4 separate regions of the Homo sapiens genome follow, and all the other regions are linked to region 1. Evidence: fine-mapped expression QTL. A gene starts in region 1. Each other region holds a variant in brackets. All regions are shown on one strand. Distances are between the middles of the regions.

The links.
Region 2: its variant is fine-mapped to the expression of ABTB1 in transverse colon (GTEx, PIP 0.95).
Region 3: its variant is fine-mapped to the expression of ABTB1 in whole blood (INTERVAL, PIP above 0.99).
Region 4: its variant is fine-mapped to the expression of ABTB1 in whole blood (INTERVAL, PIP above 0.99).

What each region holds. Positions count from the first base shown.
Region 1 is chr3:127,670,955-127,675,347 of GRCh38, forward strand. It overlaps ABTB1 (ankyrin repeat and BTB domain containing 1), which reads left to right and starts at 1,998. Exons shown (of 12, transcript NM_172027.3): 1 at 1,998-2,127; 2 at 3,437-3,499; 3 at 3,591-3,646. The coding sequence starts at 2,072. PODXL2 (podocalyxin like 2) reads left to right here. Exons shown (of 8, transcript NM_015720.4): 7 at 480-659; 8 at 1,314-1,848. The coding sequence ends at 1,526. RefSeq lists silencers at 1,280-1,359, 1,370-1,969, 2,110-2,369.
Region 2 is chr3:127,634,497-127,639,236 of GRCh38, forward strand. All of the region lies in intron 1 of PODXL2 (podocalyxin like 2), which reads left to right. Among named protein-coding and RNA genes, the nearest start is that of PODXL2, 7.7 kb to the left of the region's middle. RefSeq lists an enhancer at 4,349-4,740. The variant A/C (reference allele first, on the strand shown) is at 2,588.
Region 3 is chr3:127,595,971-127,600,710 of GRCh38, forward strand. MCM2 (minichromosome maintenance complex component 2) reads left to right here and starts at 2,441. Exons shown (of 16, transcript NM_004526.4): 1 at 2,441-2,502; 2 at 3,348-3,577. The coding sequence starts at 2,497. It also overlaps a transcript of TPRA1 not described here. RefSeq lists enhancers at 2,119-3,076, 2,430-2,549 and a silencer at 2,580-2,739. The variant C/T (reference allele first, on the strand shown) is at 2,432.
Region 4 is chr3:127,587,239-127,591,978 of GRCh38, forward strand. It overlaps TPRA1 (transmembrane protein adipocyte associated 1), which reads right to left and starts at 3,495. Exons shown (of 11, transcript NM_001136053.4): 1 at 3,172-3,495. RefSeq lists enhancers at 1,760-2,437, 2,438-3,114 and silencers at 2,848-3,317, 3,818-4,147. The variant G/A (reference allele first, on the strand shown) is at 2,195.

The sequences.
Region 1 (4,393 bases):
TCCCTCCCTGCACCGGCCCTGGCATCAGGAAGCTGACTGGTCCACCCCTCCCCACCGAGGTGGAAGCGGTTGTATGGTGGAGGATGTGTGGGGGGCTCACATCTCCTGTCTCTCTAACTAGTTAGGATAGGTGTGGGCACTCTCTCTAGTTGGATGGTGTCCAGCAGCATGGGTCCACTCTCACTGGAGGCCTAGGGCCACAGTGAGCTCAGACTCAGCGGCTGGGGCAGAAGCTATGGTGGGATGTGAAGGAGGCTGGGAACATGGGCATGGGGTGGAGAGGCCTCCAGGTGTACTGAGGCAAACGGGATGGGCATGGGGTAGAGGCAAGCCCAGGCGCCAGGGAACTTCAGGAGCCGGGAGTGCCAGCACCTTCTAAGCCTGCTCCCCCATCCCCACCCGAGCCCAATGCAACCACCCCAGAGGAGCCATGGCACCCCAGGACCTCAGCTGAGGAAACTGGCCCCTCCCACCCCTAGATTGGCATCCAGAACTATTCCACAACCAGCAGCTGCCAGGCGCGGGCCAGCCAGGTGCGCAGCGACTACGGCACGCTCTTCGTGGTGCTGGTGGTCATTGGGGCCATCTGCATCATCATCATTGCGCTTGGCCTGCTCTACAACTGCTGGCAGCGCCGGCTGCCCAAGCTCAAGCACGTGGTGAGTGTGGGGACAGGTGGGGCTGGGGGCCAGTTGAGAGGAGAGTGCCCATCGATAGGTGTCCTCATCTGCAAGGGGAGGCAGTGACTCTCCTGGGCGCACAGGGTCCCGTGGGTGAAGCAGCTGGTCAGCCTAGCACTGCTGACTGCTCTGCAGGGCACCAGCCCCAGGACAGGTGCCAGAGGTGCAGGGAGTGAGGGGGCTGCTAGCCCCACCAGGGGGCCCCTCCCTGGCACCACCAGCCCCTTTCCGGCGCAGGCACTGCAGGGCCTGAGCACCTGAATACCTCACCAGAGGCAGGCCCTGCGTTGGTGGTGCCCAAGGATCAAGGAGAGGCTCCAGCAGCCTAGAGGCCTCCCCAGGAGGAAGCGAGCAGAGCCCTAGCGATGCTCCCTGCCCACCTCGCAAGTGGAGTCTTCTTAGGGGGCTGTTGGGGGATCGATGACGTCAGGGAGGCCACGGGGCTTTGTAGTGCCAACGACTAGTAGGTTTATTTTGAGAAAGGAGTTGAGCTGCAGCAACAGAAAAGAAGGATCTGGCACCTGTGGAGGGTGCCGCGGGAACCCCCTGGGTGGGGTTGCACAGACGGCCGCGGGCCTGGCGCTGTCCGGGGGCTGGCTCGCTCGCCCATGGCCTCTCCCCACCCCGCCTCAGTCGCACGGCGAGGAGCTGCGCTTCGTGGAGAACGGCTGCCACGACAACCCCACGCTGGACGTGGCCAGCGACAGCCAGTCGGAGATGCAGGAGAAGCACCCCAGCCTGAACGGCGGCGGGGCCCTCAACGGCCCGGGGAGCTGGGGGGCGCTCATGGGGGGCAAGCGGGACCCCGAGGACTCGGACGTGTTCGAGGAGGACACGCACCTGTGAGCGCAGCCGAGGCGCAGGCCGAGTGGGCCGCCAGGACCAAGCGAGGTGGACCCCGAAACGGACGGCCCGGAGCCCGCACCAGCCCCGCGCCTACCCGGGCCGCCCCCGCGGCCTGGCCCTCGGCGCGGGCTCCTTCCCGCTTCCCCCGACTTCACACGGCGGCTTCGGACCAACTCCCTCACTCCCGCCCGAGGGGCAGGCCTCAAAGCCCGCCTTGGCCCCGCTTTCCCGCCCCTGAACCCCGGCCCCGCGGGCGGCGGGCGGCGCTTCCTGCGCCCCGGGACTCAATTAAACCCGCCCGGAGACCACGCCGGGCCCAGCGCGTCTGCCTTCTTGACTCATTCTTATTTCCGGGGTTGGGGCGGGGCGGGGCGGGCGGGGCACCCCGGGGCAGGGGCGGGGCCGCGGGGCGGGGAGGCCGGGGCGGGCGGGTCCTCCGGACGCCGCTGCAGAGCGGGGCGGGGCGGGGCTGAGCGTGTTTACATCCGCCGGGTGCGCGGCTTCGCCGCCCGAGGTCGTTCGGCTCGGGTACCATCCTCCGCGCCATGGACACCAGCGACCTGTTCGCCAGCTGCAGGAAGGGGGATGTGGGCCGAGTGCGGTGAGGACCTCGCAGTCCCGGGGAGGGTGCGGGAGGTGGCCGCCCTCGGAACGCCTCGGGCCCTGGGACGGGCGGCTGGGCGGCCGCGGAGAGGCGGGCGCCTCTGCCGGGTCACAGCCCTCGGAGCGCCCCCGCGGGGCAGACCACCCGGACCCCCGCCGCAGCCCCCCAGCGGAAGCGCGCTGGGGCGGGGACACTGATGGCCATTGACCCCCGGAGGGCTTCCTGTAAGAAGGGACTGCTCAGCGGAGGCCCGAAGGCGCAGAAGTGGGCGGAGAGAAGGCGGGCCACTGTTCGCCCTGGTAGGGCCCGGACGTCAGACCCCCCGGGCGCAGGGCGCGGGTATAGGCCTGGGACTCCAGACGTGGCCCCTTTCTCTCGTGCTCTCTGGACCTGGCGCGGGGAACACCTAGAGCCCATAATCGGCCTCCGGTCCCTGAGGATTCGGAAACTCCTGACGCAGCTAAAGTGAATCTGGCGCTGAGATGCCCCCTCCATGGGCCGGACGCGGAGGGAAGGGGTGCCCAGTTGGGTTCTGGGGCCCTTCCCCTCCTTGGGCTTCCACTATCCCGTTTGACCTCCTTTTTTCTTGGCCCTTCCTCCCCCTTGACCTGGTGCTGACTGACTGCTTCCACCTCCCCTGGGCTGGCGCCGGGCTGCTGTACTCCCGTAGCCTCCCTGGGCCGCTCCCTGACATCCCGTGCCACTCAAGAGTTAGTGCATAGTGTCAACGCTGAGTGGGTTCACAGCACTTCCAGGTGCAGCCTGGAGGCCTCCTTTGGGCTGCCCCCGCCTCAGTGGGGCTGCATTAGCATTGGCGACTCCCCTCGCTCACCTTCCGCATCCCATCAGTTGCTGTATCCCGCGACTCCTGCCTCCTAGAATTGTGTGCCCTCCACACCATCAGGAGGCCTGCAGCAGCTTTTTCCCGGGCTCCCTGCTTCTAACAGGGCCAGCTTCTTCCTGCAGTAGAGAGCTCTGGTGGGAGTGAAGGCTCCATCACCTCCTCTCCCAAACGCTGAAAGGCCAAAGGTCCAGCCTCGGCACTGGCTCTGGCTTCTGTCCCTGTAGCCCATCGTCCCCCAGCACTGATAGCACACAGTGTCTGCCTGTTCGACCCCACCTCCACATCCTTGCCTGCACTTTGCCTTGAGTGCCTCTCCTGCTCTGGTCTGCCTGTCACCTGCCCTCACCTGGGGGAGGCTTCCCCATACCAAAAGGGATGTTTTCTCTCCGTTCCTTTCCACGGGCCTTCTTTCTCAGACCATGAACCCGTCCTGACCCAGGCTCTGACCTCCTTCCTGCCCAGGTACCTGCTGGAGCAGCGAGACGTGGAGGTGAATGTGCGGGACAAGTGGGACAGCACCCCCTTGTGAGTGCTGGAGAGAGGGGTGGGGAGGGTGGGGGTTGGTGCACCCCTTCAGCACTGAGGACTGCCTCCTGTACTTCCTTCCTCCCTTCAGGTACTATGCCTGCTTGTGTGGGCACGAGGAGCTGGTACTCTACCTTCTGGCCAATGGTGAGAGCAGGGAGCCCGGCTCACGGGTGTGCGTGGGTGCATGCATGTGTGCGTGTGGGTGCATGCATGCGTGCGTGCATTCAAAGGCCTTGATACACATTTGCAAAGCACCACGATTCCTCTCTTACCACCCAGTCGAATCAGCAAGTACTATTATTGCTACTTTAAAACCTTTTCTCTGTCCACCTTGCCCATCTCTACTTCTACGACCTGGGCCCAGTCATCAGCATTTCTCCCCGGACACGGTGCCTGCCTCTCTCTTGCCATTGCAGCCAAGTTGATCTTTTCACAATGAATCTGATCGGCTAAAAATCCTCCAGCAAGTTCCCATTGCCTCTAGGATACAGTGAGCCTGCCTGGCCATGCCCAAGGCTCCACAGGGTCTGCCCTCCCACTGGCCTCATTCCTTCGGCTCTCCCTGCTTGCTTGCTGCTTGCTTGCTGCTACACTGGCCTCGCTGGGGCTCCACTGTGCTATGCATGCCCCTGTTCCTGCCCCAGGGCCTTTGCACCTGCAGTTCCTCCTGCATGGACTGCCGTTCTGCAAACGTTCACATGGCCCACTCCCCCTTCATTCAGGTCTCTGCATGCTGCCACCATTACAGAGTGACCTTTCATGACTTCCCTTCATTCAGTGCCATTCTTCTTCCTATTTTGGTTTTTTCTTTTTTTTTTTTTTTTTTTTGGAGACAGAGTCTTGCTCTGTCACCCAGGCTGGAGTGTAGTAGTGTGATCTCGGTTCACTGCA
Region 2 (4,740 bases), 36 kb before region 1:
CAGATCACCTGAGGTCAGGAATTGGAGACTAGCCTGGCCAACATGGTTAAACTCTATCTCTACTAAAAATAAAAAAAAAATTAGCTGGGCGTGGTGGCAGGTGCCTGTAATCCCAGCTACTCGGGAGGCTGAGGCAGGAGAATCGCTTGAACCTGAGAGGCGGAGGTTGCAGTGAGCCAAGAACGCGCCATTGCACTCCAGCCTGGGCGACAAGAGTGAAACTGTCTGAAAAAATAAATAAAAATAAAAAATAAATAAAAAGACCTCTCTGAGCTTTGTCACTCAAAGTGTGGTCCACAGACCAGCAGCATCAGTCACACCTACTGTGTCAGAAGACTCGGGTGACTCACACACATTTCAGTCTGAGAAGCGCTGATTAGAGGGCAGTGTTCGGGACAGATGAGTGCAGGGGGAATTGCTAGGGGTTCGTAAAAGAGCTCTCTTTTTCTTCCAGCGGTGAAGCACTATGAGGACTGTAATTCTAATGGAGGCGTCTCTCATGTCTACACATCTATGTTTCTGTATCGTCTCTGCTGTTTTGCTTTATCGTGAAGTGTGGGGCATTTCGGCCATGTGCCCCCCTGAGTGGCATGGTTGTCTACCCTAGAGAAAGGGAAACTGAACACATGTTCCTGAGATCCCGGTGTTGTTATTTCCTCCAGCCTCCTTTCTCCTTCACAGTGTACTGAGCACAGTTAGTACAGTGCCATGAGCAGTTCTGTTAGTAGCTACCTTTGAGATCTCTCTCCCTGCCCTACTAACCCTGTGGCTCAAACAGAGTTATATGGTCACTGTTACACTATTCCATAATGATTTGTTTTCTTGCTGGTCTCTGTAGTAGAAACTGACCCTTTTGGGGCAGGGACCCTATCTTTCTTATTTCTGTACCAACATAGCCTTGGATCATGCCTAGTCCAAATAAGCATTTAATAAAGGCTTTTTGGTTGAAGAATGAATGAATGGATGGATGAATGAATGGAATTTAACCATTCAAACACTACTCTGATCCAAAAGGAGAACTTGATTTATAATTTGTCTTAATGTATCATTTGGCTATTTCTGTGTAATAAATCACCCCAAAATTTAGTGGTTTCAGATTCTCAGTTCTTAAGATCTGATCCCTGGACAGAAGCATCACCTGGGAACTTGCTAGAAATGCAAATTGTTGGGCCCCGTCACAGACCAGCTGGATTCAGAACTCTAGGGTGGGCTTAACAGTCTCTGTTTTAACAAGCCCTCATGGTGATTCCATGCTGGTTCAAGTTTGAAAGCACTGGATTAAAACGGTAGCCATTTATTTAGCTCATGATTCTGTAGTTTGGCAATTTAGGCTGCAGTCAGCTGGGTGGTTCTGGTCTCAGCTGAACTCCTTCAAGTTTGTCATCAGCTGTTTATCACCTTTGCTGGTCTTGTCTGGCTCTCTCACTTTGGGACTTCAGCTAGGACACTGAGCTGATCTGGCTCTCTTCTGCATGGGCTCCTGTTTTCCTGCAGGCTAGCCTTGAGCAGAATCCTGAGAGAATGGAAGCGTGCAAGGTATCTTGATGCCTAGCCTTGGAAATGGCACATCATCACTTCTGCATTGTCTTGTGTAGCAACTCACAAAGGTAGCTCAGATTCAAGGAGTGGAGAATTAGATTTCATCTCTTGATGGGAGGAGCTACAAAGTCTCATTGCAAAGATGTGTGTTATTAATTGGGAGTCATTGGATAACCCCTCTCAGGAAGAACCTTAAGAAGGTACTGTTTTGGGGTAGGACAGGGCACTCTGTTTCTTTCCCATCTACCTAGTAGGGGATAGATACTGCTTTCTTCTATAATATTCGGGCTAGGAAAAAATCCAAGAGTAGCTTAGGGTCCCCCCGTGATGTGAAGGGGAATTAGAGTGGAAGAGGTCATGGGAAAGTCTTGAGCTAGAGAGAGTACAAGTCCTTAATTCATCCTCTCCCAGGAACAAAGGGGAACTTCAAGGGGAGTGGACCCCAAATTGATTGTCTTGGCTTTCTCTGCCTTTTAAATACCTTTGGCTCAAAGAAACCACAAAATATGAGATGGCTGTTTCTCTCTTTGAGTCAGGGATTCAGACACAGGCTCTGGGAACATGACTTCAGCTTCGTGGAGCCAGGCCCTGCCTGGAAGCAGAATCTTTGTCCGTGGACATGGTGCCTAGGACAGCAGAAGACATTCCGGATGGGGTGTGATAGCTTCCTGGTTTGGACTTGGCAGAAGGCAATCCCCTGTGAGCAGTCCTCAGGAGCACTGGCAACACAGCAGTGCCATTGGCTCCCACCTGCCCAGGGTCACAGCTTGCCCACCCTTTAGGTATTTTTTTATTTTTATTTTTTTGAGACAGAGTCTCACTCTGTCGCCCAGGCTGGAGTGCAATGGCACCATCTTGGTTCACTGCAATCTCTGCCTCCCGGGTTCAAGCAATTCTCCTGCCTTAGCCTACCAAGTAGCTGGAGACTACATGCGTGTGCCACCATGCCCAGCTAGTTTTTGTGTTTTAGGAGAGACTAGTTTTGCCACATTGGCCAGGCCTGTCTCGACCTCTTGACCTCAAGTGATCCGCCCGCCTCGGCCTCCCA[A/C]AGTGCTGGGATTTACAGGTGTGAGCCACCACACCCAGCCCCATCCTCTAGTTATGATGATACTTTCTAAAGCTGAGAGTTGGGCCTGTGAATTATCTTATTGAGAGACAGAGCTTCACGGGATCTTAGAGGTTGGCACAGACGTTTACTAGCCCTGGTCAGATGCTAAGGCTCTGATGCCTCCTTAGCCCCGGCGTTGGCTTTGAGGCCATGTAGAATCACTCTGATATTCTTATTCACATCAACCTTTTGTTTTAATGTATTTGAAGATACCATGGTCTCTTTTAAATATTTTTTTCCCCGGGCCATGAACTTCACAGGTCTCTGTTTTTTATATAGGATAATAACACAATATTTGTAGAATAGTTTGGTTTGTAAAGCTCTTTGTAGAGCAGCTTTCACACATGGCTCACCAATTACCTCATTTGGTGCCCCTCACACTGGAGGCATGGTAGGAATTGGTGTCCTTATTACACAGAGGAGGAGAGCAAGGCTGGTGGTGGTGAAGTCACTCAGCCAGAGAAGCCAGAGTGTAACCTATTTCCTGGTACCAGGCTTTCTCTCCTGTTATATAGAACATCTTCCTGTCTCTGACCTCAGGGCGTCTCTCTTACCCTGGAGTCTCTACTTCCCATCCCCCATCCACACAACCCAGAATACACCCCTGTGGCTGGATGTGGCATTATTGGCTGTGAGTTGTCTGGCTGCTGCACAGTGTGCACAGACTCCCTCATACGGAGACTCACAGGACAGTCTGAAATGCTCATTTTTTTCAGTGGCCAGTCACAGTATTGGCACGTATCAAGCTTAGGGCCTGCTCAGCAAAGCACATGGCACCAATAATATTAGCCCTATTTTTATTATAAGCATCACTAAAAATTGCCATGTACTGTAGTCAAGTCAGGTCACAGTACACATCTGGTGTAGAGCAAGAGGAAGACTGTGAAATTCCCTCTTCCCTAGATCCTTAAGTGTTAGTCTTGGAAAAGAATTCAGAGGTCATTTCATTTAGCTTCCTTGTCTATCTGGTGAGGAGACTGAGACCCAGAGGTCTTGAGCAGCTTTCCAGGAGCCTCACAGCAAGTTAGTAATTTGTGTGGTTAGGTCATTAAGTTAGAGGTTAAGTTGTGAAACTGGCAAATAGGGCTATATTCCTGTCCTTAAAGAATGAGAGTGAAAGAAGAGGAAAAAGGCCTCCTTTAATTTGTTTTCCTGTCCATTTATTTGCTTGTTTTGGTAAATTAGGAGAGAGAGAGAATCCAAGATTCTAAACAAATATGTCAAATTACCAGCACTGGGTTGAGTTTGAACTGTGACCTCACGTGGTTTTTTAAAAGACTACGTTCAGAGGCTGGGCTCAGTGGCGCACGCCTGTAATGCCAGCACTTTGGGAGGCCTAGGAGGGCAGATCACTTGAGGTCACGAGTTCAAAACCAGCCTGACCAACATGGCGAAACCCTGTCTGTACTAAAAATACAAAAATTAGCCAGGCGTGGTGGTGGGCACCTGTAATGCCAGCTACTTGGGGGGCTGAGGCAGGAGAATCACTTGAACCTGGGAGGCGGAGATTGCAGTGAGCCAAGATTGCACCACTGTACTCCAGCCTGGGCGACAGAGCAAGACTCCATCTCAAAAAAAATAAAAAATAAAAAAACTAAAGACTATGTTCAGGATACTGTATTGCTGAAATACAAATGATATTCATAATGCAGTTTTGGAGAAATTTCAGCCAAGGATGGAAGCCTGGGGAACACTGTGTTCGTCCAATCATACTGCTAGGTCCTTAAAAGCATGGGCCCTGTCTTCACTTCAGTTTGTAGCTCCAACACCCAGTACAATTGCCAACAGAGAGAGGGTACTCAGGAGGCATTTTCTGAGTGACCACATGCGCAGTGGAACACTGACTCAGTGATTCCTCTCTCTCCCCTGCCTGTCTCCATCTGTCTCCCCTTGCCCCTGCCATAGGGAAGTCTAAGCAATTTGGCCTTTTTGAAATGAAAATAGTGTCTCAGAATCCCCGCAAAGCCTCTGGGTTTTCAGGAGTGTCCACTGAAGTCCCCCCTTCCCCAGGACCTTTGTCATTTGAGACATGCTCTAACCTGGCACCAGTCTTGTGTCTTCTCTAGCCTCCCCTGACTGTCTGGCTTTTATGT
Region 3 (4,740 bases), 75 kb before region 1:
GCCTTGAAAGACCTTGAAGAAGAGGCACCCAGTGGCATCGTGTCCAGATCCCTGATCCACAGACACCGAGACAGTGGGTGCTAATTGCTTCAAGGTGCTAAATCCCAGGATAATTTTTTTTTTTTTGAGATAGAGTTTCGCTCTTTTTGCCCAGGCTGGAGTGCAATGGCACAATTTCGGCTCACCGCAACCTCCACCTCCAGTGTTCAAGTGATTCTCCTGCCTCAGCCTCCTGAGTAGTTGGGATTACAGGCATGCGCCACTACGCCTGGCTAATTTTGGATTTTTAATAGAGACAGGGTTTCTCCATGTTGGTCAGGCTGGTCTTGAACTCCTGACCTCAGGTGATCCACCTGCCTCAGCCTCCCAAAGTGCTGGGATTACAGGTGTGAGCCACCATGCCTGGCCATCCCAGGATAATTTTTTATGCAGCAATAGATAACACAAGCCCATGCAGAGTCTCTTCAGCTTTCCTGTCAGCAGCTCCTAGCATCCGAGGTGCATCCTTCACATCCTTTGTTGGTGTCTCTTAACTGTTGGGGTTTCCCAGGTCCCAGGCTTAGACCTTCTCATCTCCCTGCACTCACTCTGGATTATACAACCACTCCCAAGGCAATCTACAGCTTCAGTCCAAACACGCCCTTGAGTCCCATACATGGATATCCAACAGCTTCCTGGATATGTCCCCTCGGCCCAAATTCAGCACAGCCAGAAACAAACTCATCTTCTTCCCCCTTAAATTGCTGGTCTTCCTGTGCGCTCCTATCTCAGCTATCATCCACCTAGCTAAGCCAGGATCCTGGTGTCATCCTGCATGCCTCTTTTGCTGTCCTCAATCACCAACACCTATAGACCCCACTTCCTGGCCGGGCGTGGTGGCTCACGCCTGTAATCCTAGCACTATGGGAGGCCAAGGCAGGCGGATCCACTTGTCAGGAGTTGGAGACCAGCCTAGCTAACAATGGTGAAATCCCATCTCTACTAAAAATACAAAAATTAACCGGGCACAATGGCGTGCATCTCTAATCCCAGCTACTCGGGAGGCTAAGGCACGAGAATCGCTTGAACTTGGGAGGTGGAGGTTGCAGTGAGCTGAGGTTGCACCACTGCACTCCAGCCTGGGTGACAGAGTGACTCTGTCTCAAAAAAAAAAAAAAGATTCCACCTCCTAAACATCTTGTATTTCCAGTTCTCTCCATCACTCCTGCCTCCCTACCCTGGGTCCCAGGCAGAGATGCTTGTTCACTGCACAAAGTGCCTGGCTAAGAGGGTTGCGATTCAGCCCTGCCTCTGCTCACTAAGGCTGCCTGGAACTAGACAAGAACCACAGCAACCTCCTCGTTTGCTGCCTTCAACCTCGTTCAATCCACTTCCACCTGGTAGCAGCCAGAGGGATTCTAAAACCCACACTAGTTCACGTCTCACCCTGCTCAAAATGCTTCCATGGCCTTCCATTGCTTTCAGAATACAGAATAGTCAAACTCTCTAGAAAAACATCTAGCTCTTTTTTGATCCGGATTTTCTCTCCCTCAAGTCTTGTCTGTTGCCCGGCATCATAAGCTCCTAGGGTTAGTTCTTAGGGAGGGGCTTGCACATCCGGGCCCTGCCATGACCTCTGCAGCTTTGCACATGGCATCCTTCTATCTGTAACATCCTCCCTGCGTCTTCGCTCCCCTGGGCAAAGATAACTCCTACTAAAGCCTCAGATGTGACCTCCTACAAAATCCCAGAGTTGTCCAGCTGCTTGAAGTATTGAGCCTTTGAGCTTTGGGAGAAGTTAAACCATTGTGCTCCTAAGACGGTAAGAAGCGTCAGAAAACCAGGCTCTGAACCTCTGCTGTCTTTTTTTTTTTTTGAGACGGAGTCTCACTCTGTCACCCAGGCTGGAGTGCAGTGGCGGGATCTCGGCTCACCGCAACCTCCACCTCCCAGGTTCAAGCGATTCTTCTGCCTCAGCCTCCCGAGTAGCTGGGATTACAGGCCCGTGCCACCATGCCCAACTAATTTTTGTATTTTTAGTAAAGACTGGGTTTCACCATGTTAGTCAGGCTGGTCTCGAACTCCTGAGCTTGTGATCCGCCCACCTCGGCTTCCCAAAGTGCTGGGATTACAGGCGTGAGCCACCGCGCCCGGCCTCTGTTGTCTTGTCAGCAAAATGGCCCTGGTGTGACCGAGGTCACGCAGCCAGCAAGTGTCGTCGGGTCCCCTGGAGCCTCAGCTTCTACCTCCGCTCCAGCTCCCACCACAGCGCAGGCGAGCGCACGCGCACAGCGCCGGGCCGCACACCTCCGGGCTCTGGGCGGAGCGCCTCGGGCGTTGTAGGCGGGACCGGACCCTCTGGCCCGCCCCTCCGTGTCCCTTCTGGTCGCCAGTGGACGCCGACGTCATGACGTCGCGTTCCGTAGGGCTCTTCCCGGGCTTTGGTGGGTCA[C/T]GTGAACCACTTTTCGCGCGAAACCTGGTTGTTGCTGTAGTGGCGGAGAGGATCGTGGTACTGCTATGGCGGTGAGCGCGCTGGCGCGTGGCGGGCGGGCGCCGGGGACATGGGTGCGGAGGCTGCGCGCTTCCCGTACTCTGGCCCCGGCCCAGGGCGGCGCTCTGGGTGAGGCTGGGCCCCAGGCTCTGGGGCGCAGCTACTTTCTCGCCTGCACCCTGCGTGAGGCGACTCGCCTACCTACCACTGACCTGGGGCCCTGGGCTCCCTAAGGCGAGCTCGGCCCGTTCAGCCTCTGTCCTTTATTCACCCCACACATACTTATTGGGCGCCATCTGTGTGGCGCTGAGCGTACAAAAGACAGGCCCCCATTTCACTACACTCCTTTAAACTTTTTTTTTTTTTAATTTCCCAATGATCCTTGTTCCAAACACTACACTTACTTTTGTATTACCTTCTTGTCCCTTTGTCTTGTATACTGTCTGTTCCACATCTGAGTTCCAGACCTCTTGTTTTGGTGGCTCTTCTATGCCATCTCTATCACAATACCTTGCGCACTGTGTGTGCTGAAATAGGTCTAATGCTTAAGGGGAGATAATAGACAGTAAACAGGTAAATAGGCAAATGACATAACCTCAGTGGTTTTTCATGGAGAAAGCACGGTGATGTGGGTGACCCCGATATTTGAGCTGGCTTCTATTTGTTTGGAAGCCACTGACTCAGATTGCTCAGCTGAGAGCATTCCAGGTGAGAGAACAGCAAGGGCAAAGATCTGGAGGCTGGAAGGGGTTTGGTGTGTTGGAGGACAAGAGTCACAGGTGGAGAGAAAGAAGGGAAGGCCCCTGATGGTAAAAAGGAAGCTGTATCATGCCTCACCAGCTTCCTAGGTTTCTGACAACCGCACCTTCTCTTGCAGGAATCATCGGAATCCTTCACCATGGCATCCAGCCCGGCCCAGCGTCGGCGAGGCAATGATCCTCTCACCTCCAGCCCTGGCCGAAGCTCCCGGCGTACTGATGCCCTCACCTCCAGCCCTGGCCGTGACCTTCCACCATTTGAGGATGAGTCCGAGGGGCTCCTAGGCACAGAGGGGCCCCTGGAGGAAGAAGAGGATGGAGAGGAGCTCATTGGAGATGGCATGGAAAGGTAATTTCATTCAAGGCCCTGGACTCAGCAGATAGTTTTGCAGAGAGCCCATTGTGTGCCTGGTGGCCTGGCTTTGGGAGCTGGGAGCAGATGAATCGATGGCATTCTTGCCTTTGAGCACAGCTTGATCCAGGGTTCTGAGGAGACAGGTTTACAGAGCCATGACACAGGTCTCTTTAACTTACTGCATGTAACTTGGAAAGACTAGACCCTAAGCTGAGGATAAGCCCCGACTCCATAAGCACCCCAGAGAATGTAGGGGTCTCTAATCTGGAATACTCCAACTCAAAAAGACAGGAAGCAGGAAGCCCAGTGTTTCCCAGTAACTTTTCAAAGGAAAGGTGCATGGGGGAGGAGGGATCTGATAAATAAAGTTTTAGAGTCAATCAGCAAACATTTATTGTACCTAATGTGCACCATGCCCTTTGTTAGGAATGGTCTTGTTTATTAGTAAACATGTGGTGGCTCACACCTGTAATCCCAGCACTTTGGGAGGCCGAGGTGGGCGGATCACCTGAGGTCAGGAGTTTGAAACCAGCCTGGTCAACAGGGTGAAACCCCGTCTCTGCTAAAAATACAAAAAATTAGCTGTGCATGGTGGTGCGTGCTTGTAGTCCCAGCTACTTGGGAGGCTAAGGCAGGAGAATCACTTCAACCCAGGAGGCATAGGTTGCAGTGAGCTGAGATCACACCACTGCACTCCAGCCTGGGCGAAAAGAGTGAAACTCTGTTTCAAAAATAAATAAATAAATAAGTTAGCAAGACTTAATGCTAGGAGAGTGGAGTAAGCTCTGCGCATAAGCAAGGCTAGATTTCTACCCCTGCCTTACTCTGCATTTCCAGCTGCGATCTGGTAGATAACGTCAGTAGCGGAATTGTGTGAATGCCCAGGAGCCTCGTGGAGATGCTCCTTTTGTGCCTTTTCAGCCTTAGCATGTGTGAGAGTACTGTGCAGGGCATCCTGCCGTCCCTAGGATGTCAGACAGTTGAGAGGCTTTCAAGGGCACTCCAGACTGGATGCATCTTTGCTATTATCAGTACCACCCCCAACGATGAGACTGCATGTGCTGTAGGCTGTAGAAGGAATGAGGAGTCTGGATAAATCTGCCCTGGACTTGGGGTCAGGGCATGGGTCCTAGACGGCTTTCCTGTTCTGCCTGATG
Region 4 (4,740 bases), 84 kb before region 1:
CTTGACCTCACGCTCAGGTACCCGCCTCAGAGTAAAGCCGACGCGGAGGAGTGGAGAGCTGAGACACGGATGGAGACAGATCTTGATGAGCTCACTGGAGCCCCTGGATTCAGCCACATCCAAAGCCAGTCCTACCCGCTTGGACTTTTCAGTTATAAAACCCAACAAATCCCCTTTTCTGCCTAGGCCAGTTTGAGTCTGACTTCTCTAATTCACCAGTGAAAAACCTCCAGCTAACACAGATTTTGGAGTCAACAAGACGGGGCTGCACTGCTGGTTCTGCCACGTGCTTGCTGTGTGACCTGGGGTGAGTCACTCCCCCTCCAAGTATCATGGGGACAACATCTGCCTAATAAGGGTGCCGTAAGGATCAAACAAAACCAGGGATGTAAACATCTACAAAAGTGACACATGTACAAAGGTGGTTGCTGCTTTTCTTTTTTTTTTTTTTTTTTTGAGACAGAGTCTTGCTCTGTCGTCCAGGCTGGAGTGCAGTGGCGCGATGTCGGCTCACTGCAACCTCCACCTCCCGGGTTCAAGCAATTCTCCCACCTCAGCCTCCCAAGTTGCTGGGATTACCAGAGAAGAGACTGAAGGGCAAGGAGGGAAAGGAATTGGTTCCCAGGTCCATGGACCTCTTGTGAAGCCCCCATTGCTGTGGGGTCTGAGGAAACACAGAGGAGGTGTCAGCTGCTCTGCCTGCCCCCACTCCCCTGCCAACAACGTAGTAACCTCTGTGCCTAACCTCTGAGCCCTGGCCTCCAACCCTGGGAGGGAGGTACTTATGTTATCCGCATTGTGCACGTGGAGCTCAGAGGGGCAGCCACTTGCCAGGCCAGCAATCCAGGCTGTCTGTCTCCAGAGCCCAGGCCCCCAGTCAACAACTTGCCAGGTGCCCCTCTCCAGGCCTCGGCTTCTCCACCTGTGGGTCAAGAGCACCAGGCTTGTTCTAGAGCTATCTTCTCAGACCTGATGTGGGAAATACCCTGGTGTTGTTAACATGCAGATGCTGCTCCCAAGGGCAGGGGTAGGGCTGAACAGTCTGTGTTTCCCACAGGCTCCCAGGTGGTGCCCCTGCTGCTGCTACTTGATCCAGCAACCACACTGGGGTTATGGGGCTGCTGGCCATACCAGGATTGCCATTACGTATCAAAGCTTAGGAAATAACTGAAGCACTGACTTTTTTTTTTTTTTTTTTTTGAGACAGAGTCTCGCTTTGTCACCTAGGCTGGAGTGCAATGGTGCGATCTTGGGTCACTGCAACCTCCGCCTCCTGGATTCAAGCGATTCTCCCGCCTCAGCCTCCTGAGTAGCTGGGATTACAGGTGTGCACCACCACACCCGGCTAATTTTTGTATTTTTAGTAGAAATGGGGTTTCACCATGTTGGCCAAGCTGGTCTCAAACTCCTGACCTCAGATGATCCACCCACTTCAGCCTCCCAAAGTGCTACGATTACAGGCATGAGCCACTGCGCCTGGCCCGCACTGACTTTTAGTTAATAGGATGCACACTTCCTATGTGCAGACATGGTGCTCAGTGCTTTACACGTGGTGACACACTTAACAATGGCATCGCCTTCTAAGGGAGAGAGGACAATTACTGTCCCCTTATACAGAGGAGAGGAGAGGCAGAGAAGGGGTCAGTCCTCAGCCTTCTCTACTTAGTTCTCTTAGACTGATGCTCCCAAGCACTGACAAAGAAGTGGGAGGGGTTGGTCAGCTCACGATAGGGGCCTAAGGGTGGTGAGAAGGGGTGGTGAGAAGGGGTGGAGCCCAGGGGTGATTCTCAGAGGAGGAATTCCTGCGGTGCAGAGCACCCTGGGCAACCCCAGGCCTCCCAGGAACAGGGAAACTGGGACAGACTGTTTCTTCCACCTGGGAGGAGTCTCCCAGACTCACAACATTCCAGGGGCCTCTGCCTCCCTCCCTCCCACCCAGTTGAGGGACAGGATGCTGGCTAGGCTCAGGTCATGGTCACGCAATGCAGGACCCGCTGAGAACGACTGGGTAAGGCCTTCTCTCTCCTCTCTGGGACTCAGCTTTCCCTGCTCTCTCATCTGTGCAACAGGATTGACCAAACCCCACCCACAGCTACCGGATAGGAAACCCTGGGGAGAGGGGCCCTCAGTGCTTCCCACACCGACGGGTTGTTGAGCTTACAAACCCTAGGGCCTAAGGGTGGTGAGAAGGGGT[G/A]GAGCCCAGGGGTGACAAGGTGGGGAAGGCTCCATAGGGCAGAGGCCAAGTAAGTTACTTTGCTCTCCCCTGTTGTCCTTCGGCCTTGGGGCTGGCAGGCGTGTGGTCCCTGTCCTAAGCCGGAGACCCCAGTAAGATGGGGAGGCCTGGGCCCAATCTGACCTGCACCTTGCCCTCCCTGCTTGCCTTCCACCTGCTGAGCTGGTCCGTTCCTCAGGGCCTTTGGGCTGGCTCTCCCCCAGCTCTCTCCTGACACCTCCTCTGAGAAGCCTTCCCTTCTCAGCTGTCTCCAGCGCCCGAGCCGCGTCTGGGTATTTACTACTCTCTATCCCGGGAGTGCTCAGGACTCGGTCCCCTAGAACAAGGCCTGGCACGACACGAGCCCTCAACAGGTTGTTATGACGGGAACAACTGAATCTCCAGCACCGCCAAGCCCCGCTGGGGACTGGACGACCCTGCGGCCCCTCCTCACTGCAGAGAAGAGGGCAAAGCCAGCCCCCACCTGCATTCCCCGAGTCCAGAGGGAGCGGAGGCTTCGACATGGCCCCCTCACGGGGCAGCAAAGCCCCGAACCGGCGGCAGGCTTGGCTCAGGAGCACCTCGGCCGCTGCGGGCAGCCACCGTGGGGCTGGAGCCCGTGCCGCCACCCCGCGCCGGACCGGGTCGCCGAGGTCCGGATCTCCACCCGCACTGCCTCCAGCCGGGGCCGAGCCCGACGCCGCTACGTGCGGCTCCCTCCCGGGCCTCGCGTGCCCCCGCGCCCCGAGCGACTCCCGACTGCCCGGCACCCCTCCCGTGGGTTCCCACATCCAGGGCCTTCCCTCCCAAACGCCGCCTTGGCCGTCCGAGCTGCGCCCGAGCGGAAATGGGCCGCTCGCGGAGCAAGGAGGGGAACGGCGGCTGGGCTTCCCGCCGGGGCGAGGGACGGGGCTCCCCCTCTAGCTGCGGCAGGAGACGGGGAGAAGGCCCCTCCTTACCTGACAGCCCGGGCCGCGCTCAGGACCGGCCGCCCCGGCCGCCCCGGCCGCCCATCCGCCGCCACTGGGTGTGCGCGGATCCAGCACAGGCCGCGGGACTCCGGCCTCCAGCGCCAGACCAGGCGGCCTGGGCCGGGAAGCGTCGCGCAAGGACCGGGCGCGACCGGCTCCGTGGAATGAGGGCTAGGCAGGAAAGGCGAGGCGGGGTCAGCTCGCCGGGCCGCGGGTCTCGCGGACACCCTGCAGCCCTTCCCGACAGCGGCGACCGGGAAAGCAAGACCGTCTTTTTCGTCCAGCCCAAATTGCGAAAACGGCCACAGTCCCACAAGTCCCAGAGTCCCAGAGTCCCTGTTATCACTCAGGCCCGCCCTCTAACCTCCAGCAGCCTATAGGAATAAGTCATCACTGGGGGAAAAAAAAAAAAAAGTGGGAGAGACCAATCAAATTCCCAAGAGGCGGAGCAGCCCGCTGACCTCTTAAAGAGACAGCACAGAGGAGGTGCAGAGACAAGACGCTGCTTCACGGAAGAGAGAGGCCTGCGTTTCTCACTCGGAAAGCGGGCGGAATCGAAGACTGGAAAGCTGAGGACGCGCCACCTCTCGCCCTACGCGCCTTCCAGCTGGCAGCAGTTGTCAGTGGACCAGCTGGCGGCAGCCGCGCTCCACCTCCCGGCCTGGGCCGCGGCCGGACCGTCGGGGCGGAGCCTCCGGGGACCGCCCCCTCGCGTGCGGGCGCTTCGGGCGCCCTGCAGGGGTGACCTGGGGTCAGCTTGGGGGAAGGCGTGTCGGGGACCCTCCCCGGCGCCACGCGCTCCAGCCGCGCCACGCCGCAGGGCCGCCGCCTCCCAGCGCCCTGCTCCACGCGGCGCCGCCATGCCTCGGGCACTCCTCTTAGCAACCCTGCTAGGCAGTCATTATAGTCACCTTTTACAGGGCCACCTGAGGCTTGGAGAGGTCAAATAACTTGACCAAAGCCGCGCAATGAGGAAGCGACACAGCCAGGACGCCTCTCCCCAACTCTAACTTCCACAGTTCTTCACGCCTGTTCCTCTGGAAAGCCCTCCCTGATTGCGCCTGTCTTATCCCCTGGCATCGATGCTGCATTCACCATACTCAAGCCATGCGGGTCTCTGTTTCTGTCCCTCGGCTGTTCCAAGCTTGTTCCTGCTCCTGGCTCTACACCTGTTCCCCCGCAGAGCTGGCTCCTTGCCACATCATGTCCTCTAGAGGGTTTTGTGGACACCCTCGCTGGAGCGGCTGTCCAGTCTCATTTCCTTCCGAGCATCTTAATTCTCACCTGATTGTTTTCATTTACCTGCCTCCCCGTCCAGTCTCCCCACCCTATTATAGAATTCCAGCGTCATGAGGATGGAGCCAAGAGAGCCAAGCTGCAGGATGTCCCCTGCAGCATCCTGAGGCTGACTCAGAGCCTCGTGCAGATTGTAGGCACTCAGTTATTACAGGCACCCCAAGACTCACACCTTGCGACAGCACCGCTGGGCTGGAATGAGATTGGGTCCCATTCTTCTCCTTGCTCCTGTCCTAAAAACACAGGGAGATTGGGGAAGAA